Linked DNA regions of Homo sapiens. The protein of the gene in region 1 interacts with the protein of each later gene in a biochemical or structural test. Each region holds a gene or a part of one and is shown in the gene's direction. Other genes may lie near its edges. The genes, in order: STX2, SNAP23 and SYT1.

What was found.
Region 2: the proteins of STX2 (region 1) and SNAP23 form a complex in vitro, tested with the Homo sapiens proteins (2 studies listed by BioGRID).
Region 3: the proteins of STX2 (region 1) and SYT1 form a complex in vitro, tested with the Homo sapiens proteins (one study listed by BioGRID).

What each region holds. Positions count from the first base shown.
Region 1 is NC_000012.12:130,799,298-130,809,609, reverse strand, and holds part of STX2 (syntaxin-2), read left to right. Parts: intron 1-905; coding exon 906-979; intron 980-2,519; coding exon 2,520-2,628; intron 2,629-5,066; coding exon of another isoform or gene 5,067-5,110; exon of another isoform or gene 5,111-5,517; coding exon of another isoform or gene 5,518-5,653; exon of another isoform or gene 5,654-5,957; intron 5,958-8,121; coding exon 8,122-8,195; intron 8,196-8,319; coding exon 8,320-8,457; intron 8,458-10,312.
Region 2 is NC_000015.10:42,525,294-42,535,530, forward strand, and holds the end of SNAP23 (synaptosomal-associated protein 23), read left to right. Parts: intron 1-2,968; coding exon 2,969-3,127; exon of another isoform or gene 3,128-3,178; coding exon of another isoform or gene 3,179-3,208; intron 3,209-4,381; coding exon 4,382-4,526; intron 4,527-6,119; coding exon 6,120-6,185; 3' UTR 6,186-7,765; downstream 7,766-10,237. UniProt on the Homo sapiens protein: Essential component of the high affinity receptor for the general membrane fusion machinery and an important regulator of transport vesicle docking and fusion.
Region 3 is NC_000012.12:79,292,994-79,303,305, forward strand, and holds part of SYT1 (synaptotagmin-1), read left to right. Parts: intron 1-3,075; coding exon 3,076-3,243; intron 3,244-6,390; coding exon 6,391-6,558; intron 6,559-10,312. UniProt on the Homo sapiens protein: Calcium sensor that participates in triggering neurotransmitter release at the synapse. May have a regulatory role in the membrane interactions during trafficking of synaptic vesicles at the active zone of the synapse.

The sequences.
Region 1 (10,312 bases):
CCTGGCCTCAAGTGATCCGCCTGCCTTAGCCTCCCAAAGTGCTAGGATTACAGGCGTGAGCCACTGCACCCGGCTCCTCTGTATGTTTATATCATTAACTTGACTTACTGTTAGGTTTGCTTTATTTTTTCTTTGAAGTTTAGGGATTAATTTTTTTAAATTTAATTTTGCATTAAGTTTTGTGAAGTATTTATGTCATTCTGACGTCAAATATATAAAACATATTCGGAGTCTAGCTTCTTTCTTCATCGTCCCCTTGTTTCTCCTTTCCCTTTAGTGGTACCCAGTTTTAAAGTTTGTTGGTTATGTTTCCATTTTTTTGTATGTGTGTTTTCCATGTATTTGTATATATGTGTGTATATATATCTGTGTGTATCTGTGTATATATGTGTGTATGTATATATATCTGTGTGTATCTACATATACATGTTTCCTCTTGATGGGGTTGGGCGCAGTGGCTCGCACCTGTAATGCCAGCACTTTGGGATGCCAAGGCAGGCGGATCAGTTGAGCTCATGAGTTCGAGACCAGCCTGGGCAACATGGCAAAATCCCGTCTGTACAAAACATACAAAAATTAGCTGGATGTGGTGGCACACGCCTGTAATTCCAGCTACTCGGGAGGCTGCGGTGGGAGGACTGCTTGAGCCTGGGAGGCAGAGGTTGCAGTGAGACGAGATTGTGCCCCTGCACTGCAGCCCGGGTGATAGAGCCAGACCTTGTCTCAGAAAATAATTTCCTATTGAGGGATTGTCTTTTTAGTAGATTGTTTTAGAAGGTCACTTGTTCATTAGCTTTAGTTTTATAAAGATACTTCAAAGATAAGAAATAAAAGGAATTTGAAGTCAGGCTTGGAACATTTTCATTTTTAAATTTGGAAGGTAATTATTTCCTATTTGTTCCTAGCTATTGAACAAAGTTTTGATCAGGATGAGAGTGGGAACCGGACTTCAGTGGATCTTCGGATACGAAGAACCCAGGTTTGCTATCAGCCTCGTTTAGATTAAAGTAATGTCGCAGAATAAGTGTTTTTACTTTCTTCTTGCAGACTCTGAATAATTTCATCTTTACTGTCATGCTTATCCTCATAGTATTTCTGCACAAAAATAATATAGTATTGTAAAACAAAAGTATCTGAGACAGAGGTTTATTTTGCCAAAGTTGAGGACACACTTGGAGAAAAGAAATACAAATTAGAGTAGGATCTGTGGTTTGTGCCTTTCCTGAAGAGGGTTTTGAGGACTTCAGTATTTAAAGGGGAAAGAGCGGGCAGGAGAGGAAGGAGGAAAGGGGAAAAAAAAGAGAAAAAGTGGGGGTAGGCAGCGGGGTGGCCACACTGCTGTGAGGCTTTGCTCAGGGCTCACTGCGTTCACATTTCACATGTGGGAAGAGAGGAGTGGGGGTCGATTCTGCACTCCTCCCGTGCCCAGATCCGCCTCTTACGTGGGCCAGTGTGAGCCTGAGGTGAGGGAGGAGCTATACATGCATTTCTCAGGGTGGGCCGAGGGTGACTTCTAGTCTTGTCTTTGTCCTGTACCTGTGAAGGTAAGCGGCTAATGTACATTGTCAGGGTGAGATTCTGCAGAACTCTGTTTTAGAGTTAGTTTTTGGTGGGGGGGATATGGATTCTGAAAGATTCTGGGACCTACGAGGAATTTCCTTGTGAGCACTTTGTGCAGGAGGCTGCTGGGGCGATGTGCGGCCTTCTGTCACTGCAGCCATCTGTTTGAGAAGAGGAGGGAGGGCAGTGTTTTGCATGACTCAGTTCCCAAGCTTAACTGTCCCTTTGGGATAGTGAGTGTGAGGTCCTGCGATTTTATTTTCCTTTCACAGTATTTATAGAAATCTCTTTATTGTGAAGAAAAATCTATTCGGTCCATCAACAGAGTTCTATTCCAAAGAGTAGGGAATTATCCAAATGATTTTAGTGTTTGTGGTAAGGCCGCCACGTTTTAGTGGTTTGTGGTACTGCCCAGAGGAAGACAGAGCCCTGAGGCCTCGAGGGCACGAGGCGATGAAGCACGCGGGCTCTGGGGTCCGCCTGCCTGGGTCCCCTCATGGGCACAAGGCGATGAAGCACGCAGGCTCTGGGGTCCGCCTGCCTGGGTCCCCTCATGGGCACAAGGCGATGAAGCACGCGGGCTCTGGGGTCCGCTTGCCTGGGTCCCCTCATGGGCACAAGGCGATGAAGCACGCGGGCTCTGGGGTCCACCTGCCTGGGTCCCAGTGCTGATCTGTGTTTATCAGAAAAGCCTGTGACCTTGGGCTAATGACCTCAAAGTCATGGTTTTCTTTAAGTAGGGTTGTGACCGGCATAGTAGGGGTCTTGTAAAAATTAGGTAAGATCATGCATGCAAAGTTCTTAGCACAGATGCTGCCATGGGGACTTTGCCATTGTCATTTTCCATTTGCAGGAGCAGAATAACATGTAGTTTGAGTTTCCAAAATGCATGTCTTGCATGTCACTTTCAGTAGAAGGCATGGCCCTCAGATACGAATGTAGTTTTCCTGTGTTGTTAGCATTCGGTGCTGTCTCGGAAGTTTGTGGAAGCCATGGCGGAGTACAATGAGGCACAGACTCTGTTTCGGGAGCGGAGCAAAGGCCGCATCCAGCGCCAGCTGGAGATAAGTGAGTAATGGAGACTCCGTCTTTGTTAAAATCATGTTTTTCTCCCTTAAGGTCTCACTTCAAATGACTTTAACTTCAGAAAAGGAAATCCATGTCTATTTTCACCAATAGTGTAAAACCCAAAGACCACTCGTAGCTTCCTATGCCGTGAGTCAGGCAAACCTGTTCTTCCTGTCTTCAGGAAGTCCTAAGCGGTGGGGTTTACCTTGCTCATTGCTGTTGCTTTTAGAGTTTCAGGGAGATTGGGAGAGTGCTCAGTCATTTCCTCTTTGAGTGTTTCTGTGTCCTCAGTCCCGCCCTGCCCTGGTTCGGGGGCATCTTCATGGCTCCTCACATCTCTCCTTGTCTGTGAGCAGAGGCAGCGGCCCTATTGCCCCAGACTCTTTTCAGGGGTGTCTATGGGGACAGTTGGCTGTGGCAGTGGAGATGGCGCCTTCTTCGGGGACAGACGGGTCTGTTTCAGGGATAAAGGTTGGTCAGGTTTGTAGACTCCCCATTGTGAAAGATTGGGGTTCCCAAGCTCGGGTCCTTCAGCTGTGACACAAACCCACTGTGAGGACGTCCCACTGCAGCTGCTCTGCCTCTCCCCATGAGACTGGGGGCCGTGGACAGCTGCTCATGAGCCTCAGGTTGCCTGCTGTGCTGTGAGTAGGAAATCCCTTTGTCCCTGACCTGGGGCCTTGGACCTTCTGCCGGCCCCCACGGAGCCCTGGCAGGCCAGCGTGTCAGCTCGCAGGTCAGATGAAGCCTCAGGCCCATCCCGGCTCCCAACGCCGCACATCCCCCTCAGAGAATGTTGTCATATGCCCGCCAGGCCGCTTGACCTTGTCCCACAGCTCAGCGAGGCTCCTCATGTTTTAGATACTCTTTTCCAGTGTGTTTGGTTTTGGTCAGTTTCTCTTGCTTGTCTGATCTGCCTTTAACCTCCTCTGGTGTATGTTTCATCGGAGACACTGGTTTCTGTTGCTAGTTCTGCTGGGTGTTTTACATGTCTGCTGTGTTGCTCCCCACTGTACAACTGGGACGCACTTGTAGTAACTTGAACCGTCTTTGTCTGCCAACTCCAGTGTCCTGTCTGCTCTGGTTGGTTGATTTCCTTCCTTTCTGTGGCTTGTGTTTTCCTGCTTCTTTGCGAGCCTGGTAAGTTTCGAGTGTGTGCCAGACATTGTGAACGTTACTTTGTTGGGTGCTGAGTATTTCTGTATTTTGAGTATTTTTGTAAATCTCCTTGGGCTTTGTTTTAGAATGTAGTTAAATCACATGAGCATGGTTTAGCCTTTGGGATCTTGCATTTAGAGGGAGCAGAGCAGCTTTATTTGAGGGCCTGTCATTCCTCACTCCTGAGGTAAGACCCTTCTGAGCACCTGCTCTGATGGCCGTGAACCTCATGGCACCCTCGTCTGCCTGGCAGCGTGTTCCCTCTGGCATGCTGGTCAGCACTCCAGTGAGCATGCGGGGTCTGTGCAGCTCGCTCTCTGCATCTCTCTCATCTCTCATACTCCATCTTGCAAATCCAGTTGCCTTGGTCTCCCCTGAGCTCTGTGCCTTTGCCTTAGGACTTCCCCTGGGCTCCACCTGGGCCCTTTCTGCTCTGTGGCTGACACGAGAGTTCCGTCTGAGGGCAGCAGCAGGCTCACCTGGCTTGTTTCCATCTGTTGGGAATCAGTGTGTGGCCTGATGCTCAGTGTCTTGGAAATCGTTTTGTAGATTTTGGTGGGTTTGTGGTTATTTCAAGTGGCAGGGAAAATACGGTCCCTGTTGCTCCATCCTGGCAGAAATGCTCAATCATGATGTCGACTAGACTGCTTTTCTATGAAAAAGTTTTTACAAACCACTTTGACTTCAGGGATCTGTTAGTACTTTTTAAAGTGAAAGTCATCATTACAGGCAGCCGGTTGCACTGTGAGGATTTATGCTCTGGGACTCTGTGGTGAGCGCTTTTCTAGCACAGAGTTCCCCAGCCTGGGCTTGAAGGCCCCGCACCATCTCTCCTGCAGGTCCATCCTGTCTTCACTCCCCATGTGAATCCGGTGGCGTGATCAGATCGCCTAAGTCTCTTCTCTCTTTCCCACATTATTCTATCTCAGCCCACAGAATTCATTTCCAGTTTCTTCTCTTGCAATCATACTCTATCGAATGCAGTACTGTTTGTGAAAGTGTCTTATAAGCAATGAAGTATCATATACGTGTTGGGAGTTTTTTTTAGTAATTCCTTTAAGTCTGTTAAATTCTAAACCCTCCATGTGGCTATTCCGAAGTGAGCAGGTCTATGCAAACTCACCCCCAAAGGCTGAGCGAGCTGAGACGCCAAAGAAAGAGGCTAACAAATCCAGTTTCTCGAAGGAAACATTGGCTAGGGACGTACGAACAGAAGCCCCCGAGAGACAGAGACGGTGGACCCCACAGCCGCCTGCCCTCAGAAAGTGTTCTTTATACAGCAGGCTTTCAGGGTAGAACGTGTGCAGCCGGCCCTGTCTTCTGACTTGCTTGACAACACTTGGGACCACTGGTCAGGCTGGATGAGCATCTTGATGAGAGGTTGCCTGTGCCGGAGGCATCGTCTTCAGACCTCATTGCAGAACAGCTTGGCATGCACGAGTCGAGCATCGGTCATCACGGTGGTTTTGCTTCAGGATGGCGTCACTCTGGCCACACAGCGGGCTGTCTTCATACAGTGGTCTTCTCCAAATCCTTGCACCTAAAACCATTTTGTCCCCTTTCTTTCTTCCTTCCGTCAGCCCTGTCATCAGGCAGGTTTCTTACCTTGTATCACAGGATATCTTTTCCTGTGCTGTATGCTTTGTTTCTTCAAATGGCAAGTGAGTTTCTTCTTGGACCAGGGCATGTTACATAGGTCCACAGTGCTTTCTCTGGAATGGTTGGGGCTGTATGTGTTTCAGAGTTCAGAATTTTTCAGATTTTAGGAAGATAGTACAATGTATAAGAGGTGTATTATGTAATCCCCAGGTGGGGTCTAGGACTGCACCCTGTAATCAGGCACATTCACACAGCTCTCCAGTGAAATGTGAGTATTCACAGTAAGGGGGAGGAGTTAAGATTATAAATAGCCATGACTCAGTTTAGGTCAGATTTTGCCGCTCATTGAATTTTGACATCGAGCTTAAGGAAAACCCAGTTTTCATAATGTTGTGGATTTCAGCATTCTGGATAAGGAATTACGAATGTATACTGCATTTCACATTCTGTAACCCCAGGCTGTTTCTTAGACTTAGCAGTTAGCCGGTGGGAAGACCTTTGTGAACGTGAGACATGAACTGTAACTTTTAGTTTGTTTTTTTTTTTTTTTTTTTTTTTGAGAGAGAGCCTCACGCTGTCACCCAGGCTGGAGTGCAGTGTTGTGATAACCACTTATTGTGGCCTTGAACTCCTGGATCCAAGGGATCCTCCCACCTCAGCCTCTCGAGTAGCTGGGACCACAGAAGCACACCACCATACCTGGCTAATTTTATTTTTTGTAGAGACGAGGTTTTCACTATGTTGCCCAAGCTGAAATTTCTAGTTTTGATGATTATATTTTACATTATTTAGAACAAGTTTCATGTTTTTAAAAAAGCAAAGCAAAACTCAGAGAATCTCCTTATTGAGCTATTTTGAATAGATTTTTAAGTTTTATTTTATTTTTTGTAGAGATAGGGTCTTGCTGTGTTGCCCAGGCTAGTCTCAAACTCCTAGCCTCAAGCAATCCTTCCACCTTGGTCTCCCAAAGCACTGGGATTATACATGTAAACCACCATGTGTGCTCTCAAATAGATTTTTAAATGATTGAGAATTACCTCCCAAAAAATAGTGTAAGTAAACAAATTTTGCAATTTACTAACTTTAAAACTTTTTTCATTAAATGACATCTCAACAACTTTATTGAGAAGTAAATCTCTTAATATGTGAATGATATTTGGAGCATACAATTAATTCAGTGGTTTTTGGTGTATTTCCACACACAATCAATTTAAAACACTTTTATCAACCCAAAAAGAAACTTCACACCCACCACCAGTCATTCCCCATTTCCTCTCCTAGCCCAAGACAACTGCATTCTACTTTTTACTCCTGTACATTTTCCCATTTTGGATGTTTCATATAAATGGAATTATACACTATGTGTTCTGTGACTGACTTCTTTCCTGTAACACAGTTTTTCCAAGGTTTCACCATGGGGTGGGCAGGGTGTGGTGGCTCACATGTATACTAATCCCAGCGTGTTGGTTGGGAAGCCAAGGTGGAAGGATCGCTTGAGGCCAGGAGTTCAAGACCAGCTTGACAACATAGCAAAACCCCATCTCTGTAAAAAAAAATAAAAATAAACCAGGCATGGGTGTGTGCCTATAATCACAGTCACTTGGGAGGCTGGAGCAGGAGGATTGCTTGAGCCTAGGAGGTCAAAGCGGCAGTGAGCTGAGATTGCACCACTACACTCCAGTCTGGGTGACAGAGTGAGACCGTATCTTTGTTAAAAAAATAAAAAGGGCTGGGTACGGTGGCTCACACCTGCAATCCGAGCACTTTGGGAGGCTGAGGTGGGCAGATCACTTGAGGTCAGGAGTTCGAGACCAGCCTGGCCAAAATGGTGAAACCCCACCTCTACTAAAAATACAAAAATTAGCCGGGCGTGGTGACGCACGCGTGTAGTCCCCACCACTCAGGGGTCAGAGGCATGAGAATTGCTTGAACCCGGGAGGAAGAGGTTGCAGTGAGCTGCGACGGTGCCCCTGCACTCCAGGCTGGGCGACAGAGTGAGACCCTGTCTCAAAAAACAAAGCGACAAAAACCAAAAGCGTCCTTTGTTTTTGTGGCTGAGTCGTATGTCAGTGTGCAGCTAGACCGCAGTTAGCTCCTTCAGGCATCGGGGGACGGACGTTTGCGTTGTTTCCACTTTTTGGCAATTATGAATAATGCTGCTTATTAGATGACATTTGAATTATGACATTTATTCATTTACTTTTGTCTTCTGTGGCACAAACTATGAAAAATAGTAATTAACAATTAGGTTTCCAAAACCTGTGTACATGTTTCTTCGAAGTCATTACACATTTAACTCAAAAGGAAAGCATTAACTTCCAAACATGGAAAGTGTTCAGGCATCTGACTCTCATTACGTGGACTTTATTGATCCTCATTTAATACATGCTACATTCAGCTCAACCCCCTTTTACATGAGGCGGAGTTAAACTCTTAGGGAAACCAGTGTGCCGAGACATTGTTTACCGATTTCCTTTCTGCAGTTGTTTCTCACTAATATTAAAATGAAATTTTATTGTTTATAACATTTACAAAGTTTCTCGGAGTATTTTTATTTCTTCTTGCTCCTCAATCTTAGGTTCACTTCTCATTGTCAATATCTGCTTAAGAAAAGGTTAAAAAAATTACTGAAAAATGCTAACAACTATGATTGTAGTTGCTAACTTATGGTTGCAAATGGCTTTGTTTTTAAATTGTGCTGCATTCTGAGTGGGGCTGTGGTTGCGGGTCTTTCAGCTGGGAGAACCACCACAGACGACGAGCTAGAAGAGATGCTGGAGAGCGGGAAGCCATCCATCTTCACTTCCGACGTGAGTGGGGGTGCGGCCCTGTGGCTCCATGTCCTCTTCTGTAGACAGAGCTTTTTAAAAACCCTTTAACTTCCAAACCCATCATAAGTTTATTAATATTATCTTTTATTTTTGTTTTTCCAAGATTATATCAGATTCACAAATTACTAGACAAGCTCTCAATGAAATCGAGTCACGTCACAAGGACATCATGAAGCTGGAGACCAGCATCCGAGAGTTGCATGAGATGTTCATGGACATGGCTATGTTTGTGGAGACTCAGGTAGTTACAGACTCTTGCATTCTCCAAGAGAGATATCAGTCATGTGTAAAATCTTACTGCATCCCACTCTGTCTAGTGGATGTATCTAGGAAAGCTGTTATTTTGGATCCACCAAATTCAGGTTAATTGCAGTGTTATATGTGATGCTGAAATGCTGGAAGCAGCTTTAACAGTTGAACTGTTAACAGGAAGGGACTGGTTCAGTTGATTAAATTATGGAGTGTTCATAGGTCAGCCTTTTAGGCAACCATAGGCAACCTAAACTTTGTTCATGGAGAATTCTTACTGAAATATGCAGATGTTTGTGCTAGAATTAAGAGAAAAGGGAGATACAAAGATCTTCTGTGTATGCCCGTACATATGTATGAGTACATAAACACAAACACATGGCACGAGCTTGGCTCCATAAAACAGTATCCACAGAAGGAAAGGCGTATATCAAACAGTGTAATGGCAGTGAGACTATGGGAATTTTAATCTTCTCTAAAAGTATTTATTTTCAGATTTTCTATAAGAAGCATATATTACAGTAATAACTAGGAGAAATGTCTGAAAGAATCAACCCCAAGTGGGGATACAATCTATGACACAGATGCAAGCTTGTGCCTGTTACACGGGGTTTCCCATCTGCCCAGTAACACAGATAGGGAGTGAAAGCAGGTGTGGAAAGGCCCTTCTGAGTGAACCGAAGAGTTAATGCAATTCTTAATAAATAGAAAACTCCTCTGGGAGGCTGAGGTGGGAGGATTGTTTATGCCCATGAGTTCAAGGCTGTGGTGAGCTATGATCATGCCACTACACTCCAGCCTGGGTGACAGAGTGAGACCCTGTCTCCAAAAAAAAAAAAAAAAAATACACACATATATATGTATGTATGTATATATTGAACTCTCCATGTAAAGTACGGGATGGATCACAGATCACATGCTCTGTGATGTGCATGGGTATGTTCACACTCGCTCTTTGTCTTTGAATAAGGTCTTCTCGTTATTTTTCAAATACCATGGAGATAAGACTCTGTTGCTGGTTAGGATTCAGCTGACCACCAGGTGAAGCGGAAGCATTTATATCAAACCATCCTAAGTAAATGGTTTCCTCACTTGTCCTGAGCCTGGTTTCGGATCTGTTTTGGCTGGAGTCATCCCCTAAGTAGGTTCACATCTGATGGGCTTATTTTCTGAGACTGCCTGGATTGTGTAAGGATAGGAATCCATCCACACACAGGATTGTTCCTGCCTGCTTCAGCAACCTTGTTAAGAAACACTGTATTTTGAAGAACTTTATAATGAGAATGTGTGTGAAAAACTCAGGCACCATGCCTATTTTTTTTTTTTTTTTTGAGACAGGGTCTTGCTCTGTTGCCCAGGTTGGAGTGCAGTGGTACAATCTTGGCTCACTGCAACCTCTGCCTCCTGGGCTCAAGCAGTTCTCCTACCTCAGCCTCCCGAGTAGCTGGGACCACAGGTTTGCACCACTACGCCCGGCTAATGTTTGTATGTATAAGCATTTGCTAGAGGAAACCAACAGCTACACAGAGGGCAGGGATGGGACGATCTTACTCCTTTTTGATTTTGGGGGCCCCGTTGCCATTCATTATATGGTAAGTGGAGTGTGGGGAGTCTGATTACCATTGGTTACTTATTTCCAGGAAGCATTCCAAAGGAAACCAGCTGGACAGAAAGAACGAGAGATGATTTCTGTAATTACTAAAGCTTTTGTAGTACCTTAGACTTCAATTGTAATTGCTCTATACCAAATGCATTGCATTAAGCTCCGTTAGAAAAATGGCTGCATCCCTGGCTTTGTTTCACTGTTTCCTTTTAGAAGTCTGTTGGTATTGCATTATATTGACTCA
Region 2 (10,237 bases), on another chromosome or scaffold:
GGAGGCGGAGCTTGCAGTGAGCTGAGATCGTGCCACTGCACTCCAGCCTGGGCGATACAGCGAGACTCCGTCTCAAAAAAAAAAAAAAAAATTCAAAGTCAGCTTTTTGTGTCTTTTCCCCTTGTTACAGAAAGAACATCTTCAAAGATCCAGTCTTCTTTTTTTTTTTTTTTTTTTTTTTTTTTTTTGAGACGGAGTCTCACTCTGTCACCAAGGCTGCAGTGCAGTGGCACGATCTGGGCTCACTGCAACCTCTGCCTCCCAGGTTCAAGTGATTCTTCTGCCTCTGCCTCCTGAGTTGCGGGGACTGCATTCGAGCGCCACCACACCCAGCTAAGTTTTGTATTTTTAGTAGAGACAGGGTTTCACCATGTTGGCCAGGCTGGTCTCGAACTCCTGACTTCGTGATCTGCCTGCCTCGGCCTCCCAAAGTGCTGGTATTACAGGTGTGAATCACCGCACCCGGCCAAGATCCAGTCATTTTAAAGACAGCAGAGTTTGATAACCAATCTGATTCTTTGTTTATAGACTATGTTTCAATTAAAAATCATTCACATGATCATTTTTAAACAATTCATTTGCATTTTATGCCCTTATATCTAATTGTGGAAAGAAGAATTCTCATAAGTGTAAAGAATTTTTTCAAATATTGCCTCTTAATGTTGGGAAGGAGGTTGGAATGCATATATATTCCTTAATAGACCAGAACCCAAGGTCATGTCCCAGTCCACTCCTCTTTTTGTGCTGTCAGAAACATAATATCTCATTAGTTACTTTGGAATTTCAACCTTCTCTCTTGCACCTGTTCCACAATCCGAAATTCTAATAAAAGCCCCACTTCTGTTACTTCTGTTAATATTTGTGGTTATTAACTTTCTGATAAACTAATATATTGCTTTTGTTTTATTTACTAGCACTTACTCTGCTCTAGAATTTTGCCTGGGACCTTTCTTATTATTAACAAAGAATACATGTGAATATTTATTTTAAAAATATATATCCTACCTTGTTCCAAGAAAAATTTAACATGGCTTCTTAATAAATAAATGGGTTAATTAATAAAAACAGCATAGAAACATAATTATGATAACTTAAAGTGGTACCATGAAACACACTTGGAGAACTAGCTCTTCAGTGTTCATAAATTTGCCTTTGCAATGCCTCTCACAAAAAAAAATTAGTAGTATCCTTTCTGTAATGTTAATGATAAAGTCTAAGATTCAATTCTAGGTTTGCCGAAAATGAATCCTCACATGCCTATTAAGGAAGAAGTCACTTTTTTCATAAAATCTCTTCCCTACCTTTTTAATTTTTGCAATTTTAAAACTTCCTTATTAATGTAAAATGTAGAATAAATCAGAGATCAATATTTGAGCAACATACTATTTCGTTTTTGTTTATAGAAAAGTGAAAACTAAAATTGAATGAAAGCTTGACTTTAGCCAAATAATCAAGAAAAGTTTTGTGTCACTTTTCCGTAACAGCCATTTTTTTTTCCCTGTAATAGCCACTTTTTCTTTCTTTTTAAGACACTTAGACTTATGATTTTTTTTTTTTTTTGAGATGGAGTGTCTCGCTCTGTTGCCCAGGCTGGAGTGCAGTGGTGTGATCTTGGCTCCTTGCAACCTCCGCCTCCTGGGTTCAAGCGATTCTCCTGCCTCAGCCTCCCCAGTAGCTGGGATTATAGGCACGTGGTGCCACACCCAGCTAATTTTTGTATTTTTAGTAGAGATGGGGTTTCACCATGTTGCCCAGGCTGGTCTTGAACTCCTGACCTCAGGTGATCCACCCACCTTGGCCTCCCAAAGTGCTGGGATTACCGGTGTGAGCTACTGTGCCCGGCCTTGATCGTTTTTTTAAAGAGGAAACTCTTAAATGAAAAACTCCTACACTACAGGATTTATGAATGACCGCTTGTGTGGTCAAGGTACTTATTTGTCCGCTGATTGTCCAATTTGGAAATTATTCATGCCTTTCTTTCCTGATGGCTGGTTTGTTTGTAAGAAACCATTGTTTAAAATTTCATGGAAAATTCTAATAAAAACTGATCAGCTGGAACTACGCTGGTTCAAATTCAGTCTTCTTATTTTAAAATTTTATTTATTTATTTAAGATTAGGTCTCACTCTGTCACCCAGGCTGGAGTGCAGTGGCACTATCATGGCTCACTGCAGCCTCGACCTTCTGGGCTCAAGCAGTCCTCCCACCTCAGCCTCTCGAGTAGCTGGGACCACAGGCGTGTGCCACCACACCCAGCTAATGTTTGTATTTTTTTATAGAGATGGCATTTTGAGGCAGGGAGCAGTGGCTCACGAGCCTGTAGTCCCAGCACTTTGGGAGGCCGAGGTGGATGGATCACTTGAGGTCAGGAGTTTGAGAGATGGGTTTTTGCTGTGTTGCCCTGGCTGATCTTAAACTCCTGAGCTCAAGCGATCCACCCGCCTTGGCCTCCCAAAGTGCTGGGAGTACAGGCGTGAGCCACTGCACCCAGCATCAGCCTTCTTATTCTGTCATCCCTTGTCAACCTCTGAGATGCCTTCAAGGAACCTCTTAAGGTATCCCAGAACACCTTTTCTAAGGGACCTTTTTTTAAGTAATGTGCATTAACCTCTTTTCTAGATAGTGCTGGATACACTAGGAAGAGAAAAGCAAAACGATAGTGCCAGAGGCTAAGGGAACCTGAAAAATCAAATAGTTGCCTTTTGCTACTTGCTAACAGCCTAGTGAAGATTTGGTAGAAGTAGTATTTGGACCTTTTTAAAATTTTTTTTAGTGTCAATGGGTTTACATAATTCATCTATTTCCTATTCCATATTGCCATGGAGCATAGTGTAGATCATCTAGACTTAGCTGTATGCAGCTTTTCTACTAGAGTTATTAGTGTCATCCTCAAGGTAACAGGCACTAATAATTAGAACTCTCCGTCTTCTTTTTTTTGGTATCTCCCTACACTCCTGACTCTTATATAGAACAAAGAACTTTGAGTCTGGCAAGGCTTATAAGACAACATGGGGAGATGGTGGAGAAAACTCACCTTGCAATGTAGTATCTAAACAGCCAGGCCCGGTGACAAATGGTCAGCTTCAGCAACCAACAACGGGAGCAGCCAGTGGTGGATACATTAAACGGTATGCCAACTCCTCCTGATATTCCTGTACCTTTCTTAATGAATGGTTCACTTAGGAGATGAGTTTAGCAGTACATGACCCCTAATAAAACAAATAAAAATTGTATTTATTCCATTTTTAAAATGCATTTAAAAATCTGCCCACTGACAAAATGTGGGTTTTTTTTATTTGTTGTTTTGTTTTGAGACAGAGTCTTGCTGTGTTGCCCAGGCTGGAGTGCAGTGGCGTGATCTCAGCTCACTGCAACCTCTGCCTCCCAGGTTCAAGTTATTCTCCTGCCTCAGCCTTCCGAGTAGCTGGGACTACAGGTGTGCGCCACCACGCCCAGCTAATTTTTGTATTTTTAGTAGAGACAGGGTTTCACCATGTTGACCAGGCTGGTCTTGGACTCCTGACCTCAGGTGATCCACCTGCCTCGGCCTCCCAAAGTGCTGGGATTACAGGCATAAGCTACCACACCTGGCCAGACAAAATGTTGACTGTGGTGGTTGACCTTGGGTGATGGAATTAACTTTTCTTTATACTTTTCAGTACTTTCCAAATTATTGAACTAGACATATTTTACTTTTATATATAGAAAAAAATAGGTTTTAAAATGTGTCATCTAGAACAAGGGTCAGCTAGATTCCTGTAAGAAGATCTGTAACGAGCCAGAGAGTTAATATTTCAGACTTTTCAGGCCATACAGTCCCTTGCAATTACTCAACTCTGTTGTAGGGTTAAAGCAGGCATAAACAATATGTAAACAAATGAGCACAGCTGTGTTTGAATAACACTTGATTTACAAAATCATATGGTGGCCAGATTTGGTCCTTGGGCCGTAGTTTTCCAACCTCTCTCTTAGGGCAGTGCTTCTTTAGATAGACTTAACTGTGCATTAGAACCACTTGAGGGGCTTATTAAACCGTAGGTTTCTGGGATGCACTTACAGTTTCTGATTGAGTAGGTCTGGAATGGAGTGTGAGAATTAGCATTCTCATGTCTAACAGCTTCCCAGGTGATGCTGGGAATTAAGCTTTGAGAAACACTGTTTCAGAGTTTCTTTCTTTTCTTACATGGCTTTAAGATACTGTGCTCTCTTTGATGAGTCTCCCAGTTTTTATTATAGAATGTTTCCCAGGAATGGTAACCTATATTCTTTTGGATCTTATACTTGCTGAGAGTCATTTTGGTTACTTACTTTTGTGAAAAGTAAATCCAGACTTTTATTTAAATTCAACAAAACCTATGGAATTAACTGTCTTCTTGTGATAGCATAACTAATGATGCCAGAGAAGATGAAATGGAAGAGAACCTGACTCAAGTGGGCAGTATCCTGGGAAATCTAAAAGACATGGCCCTGAACATAGGCAATGAGATTGATGCTCAAAATCCACAAATAAAACGAATCACAGACAAGGTAAAAGCTTTTTATTGCCACAAGAAAATGAGACACCCAGTTCAGTGTTTCAGTAATAGACATCTGTGCTAGATACTGTGGGGGACACGGTAGAATAAGCTCCTGTCCTCATAGGTCTTAATTCTGATGAGGTGGTGGTTCTAACACATAAAACAAGAGCCAAGTCCTCCCTGTCATGGTAGTTGGTGCATTTTGAAACCAGAGTTTTGGAATATAGTAGTTTTACTTAAACCTTCACACATGAAGCTTAGTATCTACTTTAGCTTTTGAGCGTGTTTTTTTCTCTCCCAAATGAGTTTTATTTTGTTAACTAATTTTTTAATTGAGAATGGGGTCTTGCTCTGTCGCCTAGGGTAGTGTGGTGGTACAATCACAGCTCACTGCAGCCTGCCTCCTAGGCTAAAGCGTTCCTCCCACATCAGCCTATTTTGTTAACTAAAAATAAATTAAGTTCCTGAATCCTCATCTCATGAAAGAGTCCGTAGGTGAAAATCTGTTCTGCAGAATAGTTCTTATGGAGTGGACACACGAAATAGAGTCATGTGAGTGAAAGAAAGTTGTGATTCTTTTTTTTCCCCCTTAACTTTACATGATATAAATATAGTGAAAGCGAAATTGTTTTCAGTGTTTTGATGTGTCACATGTAAAGTCATACCTTGGCCAACCGTGGTAGCTCACACCTGTAATCTCAACACTTTGAGAGGCGGAGGCAGGAGGATTGCTTGAGCTCAGGAGTTTGAGACCAGAGCAAGACCTCGACTCTACTAAAAAAATTTAAAAATTGACCAGGCATGGTGGCATGTGCCTATTGTCCCAGTTACTCGGGAGGCTGAGGCAGAAGGATTGCTTGAGTGTAGGAGTTGAAGGCTGCAGTGAGCTGTGATTGCACCATTGCATTCCAGCCTGGGCAACAGAGTGAGACCCTTTCTCAAAAAGAAAGGAAAAAAAGAAAGTCATACCTCATTAAAATCTCAGTGAACTTTAGGGTGAGTTTTTAAGCTTGGCTCTCTGTTAAATCACTTTTGATGGATTTAATTGAAACAGTGGTTCACAAGATGCTTTAAATGCTGCAGTCTGGGTTTAGGCTATATTTACCTGTCATTTTAATTCAGATGTTGGTGAGGATGGTAATAGATTCGTTTCAAAGATCTTTGGAAAGGTTATTTCAGTCTCTCCAGGTTAGACTTAGGGTGTCTGAATCCAGATGAGATTCTATGATTCAGTTCAGAGGACTCACACAAGGTCCAGATCTTTAACAGAGAAGAGCACTCTTTCATATTTCATTGCATCAAAAAATGCCATTGATTACAGGATGCATCCCAGTTTCAGGCATGTTAAACTATGAAAAAATGCGTTATAGAATTTATGAAATATTGGCAAGGTCTTATATGTTACACCTTTGTCATGTTTATATACCAGGGGTTTTCCAAATGAATTTCATATTCTGTTACTTCTTGCCCAACATGAGTTTTGTAATGTAACTTCACGTGGTTTCTTGGATTTTCTTGGTGTGTCAGTTACTCCAAGTGTAAAAAGTTTAATTTTTATTAGAGTTACTTACCTTGTAAAGCTGATATCTTTCTTGTTTTTCAGGCTGACACCAACAGAGATCGTATTGATATTGCCAATGCCAGAGCAAAGAAACTCATTGACAGCTAAAGCTACTGCTGTTCTTCTTTATCATTTATTCACTTCCGTAGCTCCTCCTTGAAAGTTATTACCTTTTCAGAGTTTAAGTTTTCGGTTCCACGCTCTTCTAATTGGGAGATAATATGGAAGAAGGGCCAGAGCAGTTACAGCCCTCCTTCTTTTTTGTTTTCTGTTGAGGGCCGACTGCTGCTCTGCCTTCCTTCTAGTATTTTCTTTCTCAATTCATACGCTTAGATTGGTTTTCATATGTCATGTTTAGTGTTTTCATCCTCCTCATATACTTCAGCAGGTTCTTTTGCTTTCAAGATTTGGAAGCATTGCCAAAGACAGCCATGAAGAAGGAAGCTGTAGAGGTGTTTTTTGTTGTTGTTTATTTTTGCTTTTGTGGTTGAGGGAAGGACAAGAGATAAGAGGTTGTTACCTCAGTAAAAACCTTCAGGCCACAAAGCAAAAAGTTGCATAGCCACAACGAAGATCTAGTTGGATATAGTTTTTGATTTAAGTTGCAGTTATAGCCAATTTAGGCTAATGCTTGGTTTTGGAGCTTTTATACACAACGTTTTTGTTAGGCATCACAGTTTTGCAACCTCTGCTCCAAAGAGAAAAATAGAATGAGTTTTCTTTCTTTTTTTTTTTTTTGGAGTCAGAGTCTCGCTCTCTTGTCCAGGCTGGAGTGCAATAGCGCGATCTGGGCTCACTGCAACCTCCGCCTCCCTGGTTCAAGCAATTCTCCTGCCTTGCCTCCTGAGTAGCTGGGATTACAGGCGTGTGTCACCACGCTCGGCTAATTTTTGTATTTTTAGTAGAGACAGGGTTTCACCATGTCAAGCTGGTCTTGGACTCCTGACGTCGTGATCCACCCGCCTTGGCCTCCCAAAGTACTGGGATTACAGGCGTGAGCCACTGTGCCTGGCTGAGTTTTCTTAAAGTGAGCTTAATTTCTGAACTCTTAGTGATTCATATATGTACATAAATCTGTGATCCCATTTCTTATTGCACCATTCAGGAACACTTTATATAAATGAGTGGCTTTTTATTTCATATTATTAGTAGTATCATGGTTCCATTACAGGCCTATTAACATCATACATTGTCATTAGTCTTTGAAGAAAAAATATGTAAATATATATGTGTAACATGAGAATTTCTCTCTAAAGCAGGGCTTAAAATTTTTTGGAAAAGTTTGACAAAGCATACCACATGAATTCAGATTTACCTCAATGCTAAGAATTATGTTTAGTTAGGAAAAAGGAAAGTCATTTTGACCTCAGGTAGAAAAATAGATTGCTTTGAGTTTTATGTAGCTTTAGACTTTAAAAAGTTAGAATTTATTCTGTAACTAAAAATTATTTGAAAAAATTATGCCTCTGGTTTAATTATTGGTGATTACACACTCTTTCTCTTACCCTTGTGTATTGAACTATGTCCATAATCAAGTTGATGTGGATCCTGAAAAGTGTTATGAACATCTGATTGGTATTTGTCACATTTATTTTAAAATTAGCATCTGAACACTTCAAAGCTGTCAGTGTGTATTGGTTTCACCAATAACCACTGCTTGATCCTTACAATTAAATTTTTTAACTAACTAATGGTATTGTTCTTTCAAATAGGTAACATGTTTCTATGACTGTTATTTGGGGGAAAATAGTTTCATCAGCTCTCATTTAACAAATTAATAAAGCAAAGATCCATACATCAAGAAACACTACAGCAGGAAGCTGCCTTTAGCATCTTTCCAGTATTTATTGAAAATATTGATGGGACTTAAACTTACCTTGCTAAAAATTTATTGTGAGGTTCATTTTAATCATTACTAGTCTTACTCACTTGAGCTTAAATACACTAGTGACTGGAAGGGTAATGGTTCTGTGTGAGAACTACAACTCACTGGAGAAGATACAGTTAATGTGGGAGCTTTCAAAGGCTAAAGAGGAAAATATTTAAATAAAGTGAGATGCAACTACACCCTCTGTAATAGAAATGCTCCATGTCAAAATGAGTGGTTTGGCAGGGATGGTAAATATGTAAAGTAAGGTGTAAAACGGAGGATTGTGCTTTACCTAAATGCCTTTCCTAAAACCATTTACCATAAAAAAAAATTTTAGCACTGTTCTGGATAAAGGAAATAGTTCTGAGAATACCAGCATGCTACACTCACAGTATGATTGGTTAGAAGCATGGGCTGAGGCATTATCTGAATTTTCACTCTAGCTGAAGTGACTGTAAGATCATTTCTGTGCCTTAATTTGTCTGTAAATGCAGATTAATACAAGCATACCTCAGATACTGAGGGTTCAGTTCTAGACCACTACCATAAAGCTAGTATTGCAATGAAGTGAGGCACATGAATTTTGGTTTCCCAGTGCATATAAAAGTTCTGTTTACACTATTCTGTAGTCTATTAAATGTGCAATAGCATTATGTCTTTAAAAAGCAATGTATATACCTTAATTTAAAATACTTTACCATGGGCCAGGCGCAGTGGCTCACGCCTGTAATCCTAGCACTTTGGGAGGCCAAGGCAGATGGATCACTTGAGGTCAGGAGTTTGAGACCAGCCTGGCCAACATGGTGAAACCACATCTGTACTAAACATACAGTTAGCTGGGTGTGGTGGCATGTGCCTGTAATTCCTCTACTGAAGTCTCTTTTTTGTTTGTTTTGTTTTGTTTTTTTGAGAAGGAGTCTTGCTCTGTCATCCAGGCTGGAGTGCAGTGGCGTGATCTGGGCTCACTGCAACCTCCACCTCTCGGGTTCAAGCGATTCTCCTGCCTCAGCCTCCTGAGTAGCTGGGATTACAGGCAGGCACCACCGTGCCCAGCTAATTTTTTTATCTTTAGTAGAGACAGGGTTTCACCACGTTGGTCAGGCTGGTCTCGAACTCCTGACCTTGTGATCTACCCGCCTCTGCCTCCGAAAGTGCTGGGGTTACAGGCGTGAGCCACCACACCCGGCCTCCTCCACTGAAGTCTTCAAACGCCCAGTCATCCATGAGGGTTGGAATCAACTTCTTCCAAACCCGTGTTAATGTTGGTATCTTGACCTCCTTTCATGAATCATGAATGTCCTTAACGGTATCCTTTCCAGAGGGTTTTCAGTTTACTTTGCCCATATCCATGAGAGGAATCACTATGGCAGCTATACCTTTATGACATTTATTTCTTAAGCAATAAGACTTGAAAGCTGAAATGACTCTTTGATCCAAGGGCTGTAGAATGGATATATTAGCAAGCATGAAAACAACACAACATTAATCTTGTACATCTTCATCAGAGCTCTTGGGTGACCATATACTCTGATGCTCACTATCAATAAGCAGTAAGATTTTGAAAAGAATACTTTTTTTTCTGAGCAGTACTTCTCAACAGTGGGTTTAAAATATTCAGTAAATCATGCTGTAAACAGATGTGTTATCATCCAGGTTTCATTGTTCCATTTATAGAGCACAGGTAGAGTAGACTTAGCATGATTCTTAAGGCCCCTATATTTTCAAAATGTTAAATGAGCAATGCCTTCAGCTTGAAGTCACCAGCTCTATTAGCCTCTAACAAGAGAGTCAGCCTGTCTTTTGAAACAAGCTAGGCATTGACTTCTCTCTAGCTATGGGAGTCCTAAATGGTGTCATTTTCCAATAGAAGGCAGTTTCATCTACATTGAAAAATCTATTGTTTACTGTAGCCACCATCATCATTATCTGGATAACTTGCTGCAGCTTCTCCATCAGCACTTGCTGCTTTATCTTACACTTTTATGTTAACAGATACAGCTTCTTCCCTTAAACCTCATGAACCAACCTTGGGTAACTTCCAACTTTTCTTCTGCAGCTTCCTCACCTCTCAGCCTTTATAGCATTGAAGGGAGTTAGGGCCTTGTGTTTACTGGAGTAGCACTTTTAACTTCCTTCAAGAACTTTTCCTTTGCATTCACCACTTGGTTAACCGGCGTAAGAGGCCTAGCCTTTAGCCTGTCTTGGCATTTTTTTTTTTTTTTTGAGACAGAGTCTTGCTCTGTCGTCCAGGCTGGAGTACAATGGTGCGATCTCAGCTCACTGCAACCTC
Region 3 (10,312 bases), about 52 Mb from region 1:
TAAGTTAGAGACCAGGTTTTTAAAAATCTGTAAGACAGGCAGGGTGCAGTGGCTCAGGCCTGTAATCCCAGCACTTTGGGAGGCCAAGGCAGGCATATCACGAGGTCAGGAGATCAAGACCATCCTGGCTAACACGGTGAAACCCTGTCTCTACAAAAAATACAAAAAAAAAAAAAAAAAATTAGCTGGGCGTGGTGACAGGCGCCTGTAGTCCCAGCTACTCAGGAGGCTGAGGCAGGAGAATGGTGTGAACCCGGGAGGCAGAGCTTGCAGTGAGCCGAGATCGTGCCACTGCACTCCAGCCTGGGCGACAGAGCGAGACTCCATCTCAAAAAATAAAATAAAATAAAATAAAATAAAATAAAATAAAATAAAATAAAATAAAATAAAATAAAATAAAATAAAATAAAATAAAATTAAAAAATCTGTAAGACATAGCCCTTCTCCAAGTAGGAAAGTTTTAAACCTCTCCAGTTCATTTTGCTTCTCTCATCTTTTTGGGTAAAGAACTGATGAATGTAAAATAAATACAGTTACTAGTAATGCAGCATGTGCTAATGATTTCCAGTTTGATGAGAAATGAACAATAAATAAATGAAACACTAATGCTCATCTTTGATAACTAACATCCAAAGTCAGTAATGCTGTGAGAGCTCTAAGCAGTTGCAGAAATTCTGTGCTTTATTTAGGAATTGACAGTTCTAATAATGTCTTCACTTTCTAAAGTTTCCAGAGGGTTCCTCATGAAGGATGTACAAATATACTGTCATATTAAAAATAATTTTTTGATCAGCTTCATTATAGCCCTGGCTAGTTATTACATAATACATTCTAGAAAACTACATTATTGGTTTACAGGTTCAGGTTTGTAGTTATACCATTTTTAGTTAATTACATCTGATATTTGTGGTCATTTCTATCACTTCTATGAAAATTTGAGCATCAGGATTTGGTTAGGAGCAAAACCTCTTATTTATATATTCTAGGAAAGATCAAGGACAACTTATATTGGTCTTAATATATAACATATTTTCCAAAAATTTAATCTGGCTTTCTATATGCATCCAGTATTTTTTTCATCATATTGACCATTCATATTTTCCAGTGGAAATCTAGTGGTGTCTCATTCTGATTAGTCATAATTTTGAAGCTTTCAAGTTAGCTTTAATTATTAATACTATAAGTATCATTTTATAAAGTAGTATTTTTAAGAAAATAAATAATAACACTGAGAATTTTTTTACTAAAATATAGTGAGAGTACATTTACTGTTCCCTTTTCAGCAAACATCAAATCTAAAAAGTTATTTCATTCTGAGAAACTGATGAATTTTTAAAATATTACACATTGGTTTTTCCCAAATGTTCTCAGTTAATTTGATTTATAAAGTGATTCCTAAGAAGCAGGAAGTTAAAGTCTGAAAAACTTCATAAAGTTTGGATCAAATATATGTTTACCAAAACTAAAAGACAACCCTAAAATATTCTAATTAAGACGCTTTCATGGTACAGAGAAATGTGATATTTATCTCTTAGGCAGAAGTCAGAACAAGGTTGTAAAAAGTAACCTCATTCTTTATTAACAAAATATCCAAAAACTCTAAATTATAAATCATCTAGTTTCTAAAGAGTTTAAGCCATCTCTCTAGCATTTTTTCTGCTCAAAAGAAAATTGGTTATAAAAAGTGAGGATGAGGAAGTAGAATCTTACTTATTCGCATTACTACATAAAGGTAAATACCAAATACCTACTTAGCAAACAAAGAGACAGACTGTTTCCTTTACTAATCATGTCTTTATAATCCGATGCCTATTTTAGCTGTTTTTTGACCATCTGTCTGTGTTTTGTTTACCTACAATCTAGCACTCTTATTGCCACTGTTGTATCATGATTCCACAAAAAAAAAAAAAGATATTGAAGCATTAAAATAGAAACAACATAATCATTCAGGTTATTGGGCCATGTTAAAAGTTGAGCCACCTAGCCAAAATGCACTTAAGTACACGGTGGGTCACAATTAAAATGGTTATGCATTTTTTTTAAGAGGGGGAATTGCTTTTTTACTCTACTAGCTAAAAAGGCATGAACTCAGATTTTTCAGGCTGAGATGTAAAAACCTATGGTGTTACTGCATTTACAAAATAGCATATACCTTGAATAACAGTAAGAGTCTGCTTTGTTACCTATATGGATCTAAATCAGTCTGTTGACACAAAATCTCTAATGGCAGAGTATCTATGATAGTCTACTCACACCTCTTTTTTTCTTCGCAAAAATATTAACCATACCATAATACCTTAATATTCATAATGAGGCTTAAGAATGCATCAGTAAGAAAACAGACTTAAAGAAATGTAATAGTTCTGTGGTGTTTGGAAAAAATAAAAAACACAGTTACTCACCATTAAAAAACCTCACCTCTAATCTCCCTTGCTTTCTATGAAGCTGAAATTACATTTCTTTTACTCCGTGTCCTATATTTAAACACAGAATCTCATAGATAATAATCATTCTACTGTAAGTTAAAATAAATGTAGTCTGCACACCAGTGAAGGTCAAATATAATAGAAACTAGAAGATCTTATTTTTTATCTCAAAATGCTACCCAATTTCTAAGAAATTTCTACTCAGCTAGCCTGAGGCTTTGATAAAGAATAAAAGTTTCCCACTTTGTAATTACAAACTTGTGATTGCTTAACAATGCATTTTCACTTACAAATCATGCTCTGGAAAGAAAAACAATGCACAAGAGCTTTTAGCAACTGGAAAGTTATTTGATTACAACTCTTTTGCAAAAATGAACTCCATATTTAACTGCAATCAGCAACCTTTTAAAAGCCTCTTTTGTGCTTAAAACCAGGCTTCCCAGAGCCTGCATCAGTCATAATTGGGTTTCTGAAGTCTACATAGCTCAGTTCATTTGCCTTCTGTGTTCAGATTCATAAGAGAATCAGAGTTTTATTAAAAATAAATAGGAAGAGGGAGAAATCCCAATATGCAGCATTGTGAACAAATCGATCTTTTCCAAAATGTCCACTGATATTTATGTATGCTGTATTCTGTCATTTATTTCAGCTGCTGGTAGGGATCATTCAGGCTGCCGAACTGCCCGCCTTGGACATGGGGGGCACATCTGATCCTTACGTGAAAGTGTTTCTGCTACCTGATAAGAAGAAGAAATTTGAGACAAAAGTCCACCGAAAAACCCTTAATCCTGTCTTCAATGAGCAATTTACTTTCAAGGTATTTGTTAACATTTATTTATAACCTTTCCTTTGTTGTTTTACTTAAAAGACTGATCTCATCCTGACACATACATAGACATGCACATGAATGCTTGTTCAGGCACTCACAATAATTCCAGTCAGAATATGCAAAATTCTTATCTTCACTACAGTCAACATTCGATATTGCCTTTCAGCGTGTTCAGAGTAGGATTCGGTTCAGTCATTTCAGAATGGAATGGACTAGAACATGACTAGGATGTCATAGTCACATCTAAAAAGTGAGATCCCTCCCTGAAATAAAGCCAAAGGAATGAAATCATTATTTTTCTGAATTTCAAAGTTTGTGAAAATAAGTACATCTGTTACAATCCCAGGATTAAGTAAGCTGTGTCCCAATGCTTAAATGGTACAAATAGACATGACTCTTGTAACAAAATTGTGTGTGTAGAGGGCAATTTGAGCACTTCAAAGTCATTCTTCTTAACTAATCAATAAAAGGAATATGAACATATTTTTTATTGCATTTCTAGCCTTCTTCCTTTACTCTAGGTTCTGCCCTGATGTTCTTCATCTTGTTGAGGCACCTCAGTTGACAAACAACAGAGAGATTCCAGCCATATAATATCTCATCAGGAAAACATGTCCTGCAGGTCTCCAGGATCTTCGTGGATCTTGGCTTGAAATCATTCATTAAAAACAATTCTTTTGGTGGATATCTTTAACGTGCGAAAAAAACTTTTTAATGCATTACTTAGAACAATATGTTTCTGAAAAATGAAATATCTGTGAATATGCCAGCAGGCTAATTCAAAATCACCACGTCCATCAGCCAGGCTTAGCATATGCCTTGTGTTGGCAAACATTCTGGGATGAAATAAATTGAAAATGAGGGCATGAGTCATTTTCTCAAACCTTGTTTTCAATTATGTAAAGGGGAAGTGTCTTTCTATTCACTCTAAAATTTCTGAGTTTTCAAGACAAAGGTCCCTCATGTATTGTCAGTAATCTTATTTAAAATCTGGTTTTTCTGTACCTAAGCAGTGAATTTAAAGTAGCAGTAAAGACATTCTGGAAATACTCAGTTCATGAAGAGTATCTGCTCATGAAGCTTAATCACTATAGTCAACATACTACGAAACGTAAAATGGAAATAAAATTTTAAAAATATTGTAATAGTAATCACAGTTGTTTTATTCATCTATTTATTAACCTTAACTTAGGTCAGCAGTTTCTGACCAAAACTTAGTAAGGAAATTCTTAAATTATATGAGCTAATGTATTGGGGCTTTGTTTTGTATTGCATTACCTACATTATTATTTCTTTAAAAAATGCTAATAATTTTATTAGTAATTTCTATAAAACCAAGTATAATTATTGAAATTTTTGAATTCTCTATACATTTTTATCAAGTTTCATTTTATTTCAGAAAGGTTGATCAAACTATACATAAATCCAAAGTATAATATATTCTGCTATATTAAAAAATACTTCAATTTTTCTAGAGAACTGGTTAGACATTGTAGATTACTCATCTTGAAATGCCAAGAGGCAATATGATACAGGAATGGAAGTATAAAAGACTTTAAAGAAGCCTGGCTTTACAATGGATTTAAATCACTTAACAGGAACTCAACATGCCCCAAATTAATTCATCTTCTTTTCCCCCAAAACAGTTATCTGAAGGAGCTACTAATCATTCAAACAATAAATATTTTTAAGTGCTTCTTCTGTGCTAGGTGTTTTACATATATTCATTCATCCCTAAAATAGCCCCATGAAGCAGCCATTATTACAGTATTATCACAATTTAATAGATGAATAAACTTATGTTTAATCACGTGCCCCAGGCCCTTTAGTTGGAAAGTCCAAATCTGGTACAAGGTCTGTCTGACCCCAAGTCCAGGTTTTTGACTGTTGCTCTTTGAGTACAATCACTAGAAAGTCTAGAGAGATTTTAGATATACAATAACATTTTCAAGGGTTTATCCTTACTCTAAAAAATTTTGTTTCTTTCTTTGAGAGTCAGCTCTTTGGAAGGGTTTATTTTCCATTCCTTCTAAAATGGAAAAAGGATGATGCTTACTTTTTAATCATATCATTTTAATAAAATAATCAGGTTCCAAACAGATGGTAAATAAATGACAGAAAAGAAAAACTCTTTGGAAAACTAAAATTTCTTGTATGTAGATGGCCCAATATTCTTCCTTTTCTTCCCTCCTTAATATACAGAGTTAATTGAGAAATGTTTGCTGAAGCATAAGACAACCATTTACACTGATAAAATAATAGGAAGTGTATGAAAATTGATCAAACCTTTAAGACAAGTCTAAACAATTTCTTAATTAGGTATTTCTACCCAGTTACTGAAGTGTAGCTTACTTGGATTGCACTGCTTTCACTGAATATTAAAAATGTCACTAATAAACATCCCAACCCATAGCATCTGTCCCAGATATATTTGAACAGCTGGAGAATTCATCAGTTCTTGGCCTTTTGCCACCACTCATCCTAAGGCATGTCATACCCAAGAATGAACTTCAAAACCCATATTATAATGCACCTCTTATATTCAAAACATCAATTTCCTAGTCAGTTCTTGTCAATCAGCAAATTATTTTAGGGAGTAGGTGAGGCACTTGTGAATATCATTTCAATCCTTTCAGACTCCTAGCATAGCCTTTAATAAATCATTGCTCCATTGAACTGTGGCATTTAAATGCCTTGAAAGAGTTAATGGAGCATTTGAAATAAGTTATTTGCCCCTCAGTAAGTTACACCCTGACAATACAACTTAAAACAACAATAACAACAAAATATTCTACAAGAAAAACTTACTTATAGTCAAATGCAATTGGCTTGTTTATTGTTTTATTAATCTTAAGGCTTTATAGTATAACTAACAGCAGGATCCATTATTAATAATGCTAACAGCTTCTAGAACTTTGAGATAAGGCAATAAATCACTAAAATTTCCCATTTTCTCTCAAGTAATTTTAGCCTCAAGCAGTTTGTCAAAAGTCTGAATTTAAAAAATAACCAAAAACAAAATTATCTCCCTGTTCTGTTTATGCAACGTAAATATTAAATTAAGCACCATGAACAAGTAACATGTTTTAAGCATTTTTGTGACTGGATATTTTATCCTCATGTCTTTTAATTTAGGTACCATACTCGGAATTGGGTGGCAAAACCCTAGTGATGGCTGTATATGATTTTGATCGTTTCTCTAAGCATGACATCATTGGAGAATTTAAAGTCCCTATGAACACAGTGGATTTTGGCCATGTAACTGAGGAATGGCGTGACCTGCAAAGTGCTGAGAAGGAAGAGGTAAGGGAATTACTAGCATTTCTAACATCACAAGCTGTACTCGCCAGTTGCTGCTCATATAATAACTTATTGAGAAATACTCTTTACAAAGGGGGATGTGGGCCTCTAGTTGTTGACAGCTGATAAAATAGGGTCAAGGGCACTGCACCACCTCGTTAAAAAGTGTACAGGTCTTCTGGGTGTTATCTGAAAGAAGAGAGACATTTGTGTACTGGATCTAGAAACAGCAACCCTGGACACAAACAAACACACATGCCCACAGGAACTCTTTCTAAAAGCTTACAAAAGGCCACACACACTCATAAACTACTGCTTTAAAATGACAACGAAAAATTATTTTATTTCTCATTTTTCCACAATCATTTTGTGTTTTCTGCATAGGTTATGTAGCTATTACACAGAAATAAAATGGTACTTTTTCCTTGATTGTTTCTGCATATCACAGACAGTTCATTGTTTCTCCTAAAGATACGAGAGCATGATTGGTCAAACATCAAATATAATTCACAAAGCCTGATATTAAATCCATTTTTTAAATGACTCACATTTTTATGCTACTCCTCACATTGTTTATTCCCAGTTTTAATAGTTTAGCCCAGTATTTTTCCATGACTTGAAAAGGGAAGTTCAATATGTTTAGTGCATTTAAGCTTCATAATAATCAATTGTATCTGATTATGCGATGCCTGCCTGGCACCAGCATTTTTCTCTGCAAACATTTCAGTAGACCAATACTAGAAAAGCAAACAACCCTTAGCTTCTCCAAATTCCTAAAACAACTCCTTTCGCAGTCACTCTTTAGTTCCTGACGTAAGGCTGTAATTACGCAAGAGATTGCTGACAGCTCAGTCATTTAGGATCTCCAGGTCCCTAGGATTCCCTGGCCTCTTGGGGTCACCAGGGAGATCAGAGAGAACGTCAGGCCTTCAGAGAAACTCAATCAAGTCCATCACCTGGGAATCCTCTCAGCCTAAGGTTTTCTGTGACCAATCTGAGGCTATGAACTTTATACCCCCTATATGATGAAATGAGGTTTTAGAACAGGCCTATTAATTCCCATGCTGAAATTGAACTTTTCACTCTAACATTGCTGTTTGCTATTTGATTTTACAAAATGAGTCAAAAATACTTAAGTTAAACTCTGCTCTTTTTTTTGGAAAAAAGTATGTATACTTATACTTTCCAAAAAAGAGAGCAGAGCTTAAGTATTTTTGTATATAATATTCATGTATACTTATTATATATATATATATATATATATATATATATATATTTACTGTCTCAATATCTAAGAATGTTGACTAACCTTTCTTAGACATTGACACAGATTTAGCCCTACTGTGGATATTCAAGAATACCCAGGAAAAATACCGAGTTTTAAAATTATATGATTTTATGGATAGTTCTTTCCTATAAGTGAACTAATAGTAATGTTACAGACATCTTCATGAAAAAAAAAATTCGATCATTCAGTTACAATGTTTATAATTATTTAACAAAGTAGTGGGATGTTTCATTGACTTTTTTGTTGAAGTGTTTGACTTTGTGTAAATTTTTTGGGTGATAAAGTAGGACCATAAGAAATGTTTATTAACTGATTGGTTTTATTAATTGACTGGTGTTTGGTTGGCTTGTTGGTTGAATATGAGAACATGAACCACTGGTACTTCACAATGCCCACTTGTGCAGGGTGCATGGTTCACACTTGTTACTTTCACCTGGATAATTATCAGGTGGTAATGACATCCAAGATCACACCCAGTGGGTTTCTGAAAAATTGTGCAATGTTTTTTTCTGAGCTAAGGGAATGTGGACCATTGAGCAAGTTTCCTCTTTCAGAAATCTTTGAGTACGAGCAGAGTTTGAAACTTAACACCAGGCTGACGGGTTTCACTCTAGAATCTAGGGGTTTAGGTAAACTGCCCATTCAGAATTTTAACCTAGAAAGTGGCCTAACATGATTTACCCCTTATCTTACTTACCGATGAAATAGAATAGAACATGAAGTACCCAGCATAGAGTCTGGCATATGGTAAATGTTCACTAAGTGAGAGGTCTCTCATACCTTTTTCTTGGTTAATTTTGTGTGTGTGTTCTCTTTCCCCATTTTGTGTGTTCATCTCCTCATTTGTTGTGTCTCTTCCCTCTATTTTTATCTACTTCGCTATCCTTTTTCTCACCATTGCACTTACTGAGTATCTGTAGGAGTTATTAATGGGAAATATTAATTTTATCATTACACTCGTAAAACTCTAGAGACTTTCCTCTTTGATTTCTACTCAGGAATAGAAATTTTTGGTTTTCAGTTAGACTATTTCTCTTTATCAAGGTATAGGTTATAAAAAACTGTATAAGACAGATGTCTAGCTTACAAAGTATCTCTGGATGACTAGACCCAGTTAGAAACTTTTTCATTATAAAGGAAGTAAGATTCCACTTGCATTTTATATCTGAAGAATTACATATTCTCAATGATATCTGCTCTAACTTTTCATGCCACTGTCCATTAATTGTAGAAAATTATAATTGTGTGAATAAATTGAAGTCTTAGATTGACTTTAGTTTTATGATTTTAAAGAAATTGTTTTTCCACTTTACATGAGCAATTTTGTTCATGATTTTAGTTTTGCTTTCATCTAGCAGTGTTAAGCATTATTTTTAATGTCATAATGAGATGAAAGATATCAAAGAAAGTGAGAAAAAGGAGTTCAAGGAACAGCTTTGGAATCTAGAACAAGTACTGCTAATCATAGTAAGCTGTTCTGCCGGAGACTTGGATTTAAAGAGGTTAAATCAAACCCACTGACAGCCAACTCTGTGATGTTAATTAAATGGAGTAAGGTTTTATTGCCAGAAAGTTGACAACTATAAGTCATAAGATGATGAAGTAATTGTGTAACTTAAAGGATTATGTACTATTTTAGCGACCAAATAATGTGCAAGCAATTTAGAAAGAAATGGGAAGGAACATGGATAGTGTAAGAGCCTCATTTGGAAGTGACTAGGCCCATGTTTAAAAGGAAGTGATGTGGAAGAGATAAGGTGTACCAGGAAGAGCCACAACAAAAGCACATTGTTCCCACTATTCGATTCTATCCCCAGGTGGAAACATCACTGGTGAGGTTTCCATTTGGCTTGATCGTGTTCCGCAAATTTACACAATCAAAGCCACCTCACTGGTTTCCGTTCACTTGCCGGTTTGTTTTTTCAGTGATGCACGGTCGACTACTTTCTTCCTCCACTTCCCCACCTTCTAATAGATGAAGGTGGAATTTGACCTTGGAGACAGGTCAACATTTCTCTTGTTTTTGTTTCTTTAAAACAGAAATATGTATCCTCTGAGTTCCTAGAGATGGTTATATATAAAACTGTTGTTTCTTAATTTTTTTATTTCTCAGTATATGGCTTCAAAATCATCCTTGGTAATCAGTATATAATTCTTCAGTGTGCAAAAGGCTACCAATATGTATAGCCCCAAGCTGAATCTTTGAGATTTTCTTCTCTTTAATCTTTCAAAAAATAAGTATTTATTGTATACACAAGTCAAACCTGAAACCAATCTTTATCTTTTTAGAATAATCTATTTAATATTTTGACTTAATTATTTCAAACATTACAAGCAACAGCTATGACTCCATTTTTCCCTTCTTATAAATTTCACTTATGTGCAGTTTTAAAATTGTCTCAGTTCTGCACCCCAGGATCAGGTATATCATCAAAGTATTTAAACTCTTTTTATTTTAACATTTTGTTC